Linked DNA regions of Homo sapiens. The protein of the gene in region 2 interacts with the protein of the main gene of each other region in a pairwise test. Each region holds a gene or a part of one and is shown on either strand. Other genes may lie near its edges.

Region 1 (3,500 bases), on a different chromosome or scaffold from region 2:
TAGAAGATGAGGAGTAACTCAATCTTTTCCTTTTTCTTTATGAAAAAGACATACTTGAGGGAAACTGAGGTAAGAGAAAAATATGAAATATATTTTTAAACAGGAATTTTTTTTTTTTTTTTTTGAGATAGTCTCCCCCTTGTCACCAGGCTGGAGTGCAATGACGCAATCTTGGCTCACTGCAACCTCCGCCTCCCAGGTTCAAGTGATTCTCCTGCCTCAGCCTCCCGAGTAGCTGGGATTACAGGCGCCTGCCACCACGCCTGGCTAATTTTTGTATTTTTAGTAGAGACGGGATTTTACCATGTTGGCCAGGCTGGTGGTCTTGAACTCCTGACCTCCAGTGATCCACCCACCTTGGCCTCCCAAAGTGTTGGGATTACAGGCATGAGCCACTGCGCCTGGCCACAGGAAGTTTAATGATTGACAAAAGCATACTAATCTTGTATTGGTATGGGAACAAAGAAAATAGTTCTGTCTTTGAACATTAGGGATTCAGGGGGTGACAGCACTCTCTTGGAATCTTGTGTGTTGGAATGCTGAGGTTGGAAGGCAATGGGGAAAGAATATTGCCTGTTCTACAGAGTTCCCTAATTCCATATTGATGATACCTATTGGGAAACTTTAGTTTTTTTAGTAAGTGTAAGAACATTGTGATTATGGTTGTGGATAGTTAACCATTTTCAATGTGTCTGGATTTCTTAATGCATTCAAGAGTTTGTTCATTAATTCAACCCATTATTGATTACCTACCAAGAGACAGGATCTATTCTAAGCTTTGAGGGTATAGCAATAAGCAAGACACATGCTCCCCCTTGGGAGAGTACAGATAATAAGCACATAAATAAAGAACCCAGAATAGTGGTGTTATGAGGAAAATAAACAGGATAATGGCATAGAGAATGATGGGGATTTATGGGGGCTTTTTTAGGTTAGGTGACACTAAGACAGGCTTAGAAGGTGAGATTTGAGCTGCAGAGAGAAAACATTTCCAAGCAACTTCAGGGCAAAACCCTGAGGCAGGAATGAGCTCTTTGTGTCTGAGAATCTAGTGTAAGACTAGTGAGAAAAACTAGTGGGAGAGTGAAGAGGTGGCCTTACCCACCCAGATCATTGGGGGTCTCTAACAGGCAATGGTAAAAATGTTTAGCTTTTTAAAAAAATAAAAATATGCTTATTAAATAATTATATTGTGATTTTGGAACTAAAATAAGTTTGGAAGATTCAGGGCTACTGAGAGGACTGATGTGAGACAAAGGTGAGAAATGTGCAGAGCAGGGTTAGAAGCATAGACTAGCCTGCCTGGAAGAGAGGGTTTCTAGATCACTGACACTTGTCTGTTTAACATTGCTGTTTACGTTATTTATGAGTAAGCCCTGATTTTCATCTGTTAATAAGTTGTAATTTTACTGTTTGCTGTTGTGCCCAGAGCATCTCCATCGCAATGCAGTAACTGAAGTGAGACTAAAACCTCTCACTTGAGGGCCATTTTTCATGGGAAAATACTTGGCTTAGTGGTTGGTTAAGTTAGGCTTTGAGGATATGCGCAGAAAACTCTGGCTAGAAATCGATTTGAGAGCAGTGCAAACATAATTAAGGGTGACTTCGAACTGGTCTCTGGACATGTTCTAAACCAAGGTTAATTAAGACCGAAAATATGTAGATCTGGATTCTGAAAGATACTGAATGCCAAATTAAGGAATTTGGATTTTATCATTCCACTTTAATCCATGCTCTGCTATCCAGTTGCCCTTGCTTTTGGTAATTTATATTATGAAACCAAAATTGTTTTTTTTAATTGTTGTTTCTAAAGTTATTGTTTTTCACCCCTTCTCGAATTAGAGCTTTTGGCTTTGGGAAGACAGCCATTGAAGGTTATTTGAACTGAGGCAAGGCACCGTGAAAGCAGTATTAGAAAATTGGTGACAATATTCAAGATAGGTGGGAAGGAAAAGCAGATGAATTATTTAGAAAGCTATTACAGTAGTTCTGAGAAAGATGAGTAGGGCCTGAACTATTTCATTATTTGTTCATTCAGTGAAAATGGAATAGAAGGGAGGAATATAAGAGTATAAGAAGCACGCTTTCTTTAATTGGCTGTGAATCTGTTTTTATAGTTAGTTTACGAAGAGGCTGTATGAAAGACGAATTGATAGGACTTGGAAACCATGAATGTAAAGACAAAGAAAAGAATATTAGTGCTTATTAAATCAGTTTCAGAGACTGCCAAAATTTAATTGCCATGAAAATTTGTATAAAATTGAATATTGCTCATAAATACAGATTATGGGTTGGGGCTTAAAAATTACTAGTTTTTACTATCATGAAGCCATTTATTATATGATCATTTTTATTGGCGTAGTAGCATGTATTAGAAATTTTAAGATTTTGAGTGACATATGGTTTAAATATTAGGTATCAGTTCTTAATATAAAGTCCAAGTTCCCAGGAAGTGGATGCTTCTAAACACAAGAAAGTCATGCCCTGTCCATTCCCCACTTTCATTTTTGTGATTCTGAATAATTTCTGGTTAAGCCATTTCTTATTTTTAAAAGTTGGGAATAAGTAGTATACTCCTCATGGATATGGTGAATTATGTTTCAGATTGGTTCCTGGGCAACTGAGTGTCAAATTTGTGGTCTTTTTTTTTTTTTTTTTTTTTTTTTAGTGATTTGCAAACTCTCTCAAATCCTTTTTAAAATGAAGTGATGGGTATATGTGGAACCACTGATAAATAACTGCATGGAATAGTGTTTAGAAAACATGCTATTTTAGTGCTATATTATTGTAAACTTAAAGGATTTGCCATGTTATAAAAACATTTCTGAAAAGGAGCATGTTACCTATTGTCCATTAATTGGCTTTGTTTTATGTGTAGTTATTTTCTTTTTAAAAATCTAAAAACCAAAAAACAATGGTCTCACTTTTGTCCAGGCTGGTCTCAAACTTGGGGCCTGAAGCAATCCTCCTGCCTGGACCTCCCAAAGTGCTGGGATTACAGGCATGAGCCACCATGCCTGGCAAGTTTTTTTGTTTGTTTGTTTGTTTGTTTGTTTCTTTTGAGACAGAGTCTTACTCTGTCGCTCAGGCTGGAGTGCAGTGGCATGATTATGGCTCACTATACCCTTGACCTCCTGGGCTTAAGCAGTCCTCCCACTTCAGCCCCCCAGGTAGCTGAGACTACAGGTGCACACCACCATGCTGGCTATTTTTAAAATTTTTTAAAAAAACTTTTATATTTATGTATTTATATTTTGGAGACAGGGTCTTGCTCTTTCACCCAGGCTAAAGTATAGTGGTGCAGTCTTGGCTCACTGCAGCCTCATCTTCTGGGCTCAAGTGATCCTGCCACCTCAGCCTCCCAACTAGCTGGGACCACAGGCACGTACCACCACGCCCGGCTAATTTTTGTGTTTTTCGTGCAGATAGGGTTTCGCCATGTTGCCCAGGCTGGGCTCAAATTCCTGAGGTCAAGCAGTCTTCTCGAAGTGCTGGGTTTA
Region 2 (3,500 bases):
GAGGCAAGAGAATCGCTTGAATCCAGGGGGCAGAGGGTGCAGTGAGCCAAGATCGTACCATTGCACTCCAGCCTGGGCAACAAAAGCGAAACTCCGTCTCAAAAAAAAAAAAAAAACAAAAAACAGAAAAGACCGATGCAATGTAATATAACATAAGTGTTTCTAATGTTAATGAATAACCTTTGAGCCTCTTATTTTGCTTAATACAAAAGTCTCTATAGGGTGTGAGAACTGTAAAATGTAACACTACTGTATAGTCACTACTATAATTTTACACTGTGTTGAACTGGAAGAGTTTTCCAGATAACACAATGTTTCTCAACTAATATTAACTCCAGATCTACATCCAATGCTATATTCTCAAGTGTGACTATACAGAATCAACTTGCTAGATCCTTTGATAATGGCTGATAAGGCAGTGTAACATCCTCTGAAACAAAAAATCTTATCAATTGGGAATTAGTCATCTATTATAAAGGAACTGCTGAACATAAGGCACACAATTTAATTACAACAGTGAATTGCTAGAGTCCACGTCTGCTAATGACAACTAATGCTTTAGCAAGGACAACAAATACTTGAAGACCTTAATGTTATTTTCTTCATTTTTACCTCTTCTGGCATATAAAACAGTACATAATCAAAGGCTAAAACAGGATCTGATCAATCATGAGCACCATATATTAGAGAAAAAAATCCAGCAAGATTTCTCTCAAGTTACATACATGAGTTTTACAAAAGGTTATTAATATTACGAAGAAGTAAGCTGTCAGCAAAATTTTGTAAAAATATAGGCACCTGCTTCTCAGTGATATAGTTACCTGGACTTAAAAGCAATTCAGCTGTTCTACAGCACTACAGTGAGGGCCCTGGTTTGGGTTCTGAACCCCTAATTCTTAGGCATTCTTTATTACTGGCTTACATTCTTTCTTTGCTGTCATTATATTTTCTTTCATTTATAGCCTATGTATTCCTGCATTTTTGATTAGTCTGTGATATGATTTTAATGCAATGTGGAGCTTAGCACAATAAACCAAAGTCTCCCAGTATTATGTAGTTTTGTCACAGATTCATTATGAATATGAGTCTCTTTTTAAAAACATACGCAGGGCCGGGCATGGTGGCTCACACCTGTAATCCCAGCACTTTGGGAGGCCGAGGTGGGCAGATCACGAGGTCAGGAGTGCTAGACCAGCCTGGCCAACATGGTGAAAACCCGTCTTTACTAAGAATACAAAAATTAGCTGGGCATAGTGGTGCGTGCCTGTAATCCCAGCTACTTGGGAGGCTGAGGCAGGAGAATTGCTTGAACCTGGGAGATGGAGGTTGCAGTGAGCCCAGATCGTGCCACTGCACTCCAGCCTGGGCAACAGAGCAAGACCCTGTCTCGAAAATAAATAAGTAAAATTAAAAAAAAATGCATAAATGGACAAGCAAAAGGTAAAATATACTGTGGTATATTTGGTTATGGATGATTTCTGATCCAGAATTGCTAAATCTTTTTCTTAAGAGTATTCAAGGAGAAAAACGCTGTACAAGTCAGAAAAATTAAAGTCTTAATATTCTTCTCTATTGCAGGTTAAAAACTAATGTAAACTTTATTTATAAACATAAAAATAATAGAAATCTCTTTAAACTATGACTTTTAAAAACTTTTATAGCAATACTCTCACAGAGGAAAAAATAATGATGTAGATAACTTTTATTAGCTCAAAGAAATTATGTTATAATAGCAATACAAGGTAACATTTATTGAGCACTTATTATGTGTCAGGTTCTAGCTAAATCATAAAAATGAAGCACAAAAAAGTTAGAAAACTTACTGGGATCATACACCTAACCAGGGTTTAAACTGAGTCATTCTGACCAGAGTGCTCAGGTCTTTAATATAAGATTAACATAATATAATCTAGTCCAATAAAATGCAATCACCAGAAAGATAAAAAGTTGAATGGCAAAGATGTGAAGATTAAGAAAATTAAAAAAAGAACTAACGCTGACACTAAAAAAAACTTCTTCCAATGGTAATCTGATTTTATTTTGAGGGTACAGACTTTAGAGACCGCAAGCATCCAGCTTCCTGTCTTAAATTCCTAAACCCTTACCAATGCTAAAAATTAAAACAAATTTCCATAGATTTAGCATATGAACAGAAATATTCATTTATAATATCCAAAGGTAATTTGCATAAGGAAAACACAATCTGCTCAATAGAGCTTAGTATTATAATGGAAATGAAACATATTATTAAAAAGTGATTTCCTTGTTGAATATAATTTGGAGATACTTTAGCTTAAAAGTGAGACTGTTAAAATCTGCTTTTCTGCTATAACATATCATATAGACCACGTCCATCAAAACTGCTAAATCCTGACTGAAGAAACAGATATTACATGATATACAAAACCCAGTATCTTCTATTTGTTTCAATTCAGTTTGAAAATCTTTCTGGAGTACCTCCTATATGACAAAATTCCAAGCTGTGAATAGTAAAGGACACATGCAAACCTGACAGAGGAACTATTTAGTAGACAAGGAAGACCTTTTTAATGCTTAATGTTACTATTTAAAATTCAAAACTAAAATCAGTGGCCTAACCAAAAGATTTCTAGGAACTGGGAAAGCAGGCTGAAATATAGCACAGAAAGACTCAAGTCCACTCTATACATTCATACAGTACCTGGGAGCTGAATCTGTGAACATCATCAGAGGCACTGACTAGATCAATGGAAGACATGGAGGAAGAGCGACTATAGGGCTACCAGAGACAGACAAAGAAAAAACCAAGTAATCAGAACAAAGGCACAACAGAGCATTCAGTACCAACTTCCAAACACAAGATAAAGGGAAGAGAAAACAAAGCACTATATGAAACAAGCACAGCAGCAACTGCTGACTTCATGCACCTATTATGTATTATGTTCCAAAATCATTCCAAAAAAGAATGTAGTGCTTCCAATAATACAAAGTAATACCATTTAACCCCAAAGAAGAGAGAGATTTAGTATAACTGGATATACTTCTGGTTAACTATTTTGGACTAGCCACTCCTTATTTGCCCACCCCCAACTTTCCCCTTAAATAAAAATGAAAGAACTTTATTTTCAGAACAAAATTTCTAACTGTTTTGGAGGATGTATATGGAATACAATATATAAAACCAAAAACAGTCTCATTACTTAAATTAATGAAAAGGGGAGAAAACTTATATACTACAAGATATTTCCGGCTGGGCATGGTGGCTCACGCCTGTAATCCCAGCACTCTGGGAGGCTGAGGTGGGTGGATCACAAGGTCAGGAGATCAAGACCATCCTGGCCATGGTGAAACTGTCTCCATTAAAAATACAAAAATTAGCTGGGTGTGGTGGTACATGCCTGTAATCCCAGCTACCAGGGAGGCTGAGGCACGAGAATCTCTTGAACCCGGGAGGTGGAGACTGTAGTGAGCCGAGATCGCGCCACTGCACTCCACTCTGGTGACAGAGTGAGACTCCGTCT

The links.
Region 1: the proteins of CERT1 (region 2) and RTN4 interact in binary tests that used the Homo sapiens proteins (3 or more experiments, as listed by UniProt).

What each region holds. Positions count from the first base shown.
Region 1 is NC_000002.12:55,043,952-55,047,451, reverse strand, and holds part of RTN4 (reticulon-4), read left to right. Parts: intron 1-125; exon of another isoform or gene 126-636; intron 637-3,500. UniProt on the Homo sapiens protein: Required to induce the formation and stabilization of endoplasmic reticulum (ER) tubules. They regulate membrane morphogenesis in the ER by promoting tubular ER production.
Region 2 is NC_000005.10:75,396,630-75,400,129, forward strand, and holds part of CERT1 (ceramide transfer protein), read right to left. Parts: intron 2,759-3,500; coding exon 2,681-2,758; intron 1-2,680. UniProt on the Homo sapiens protein: Shelters ceramides and diacylglycerol lipids inside its START domain and mediates the intracellular trafficking of ceramides and diacylglycerol lipids in a non-vesicular manner.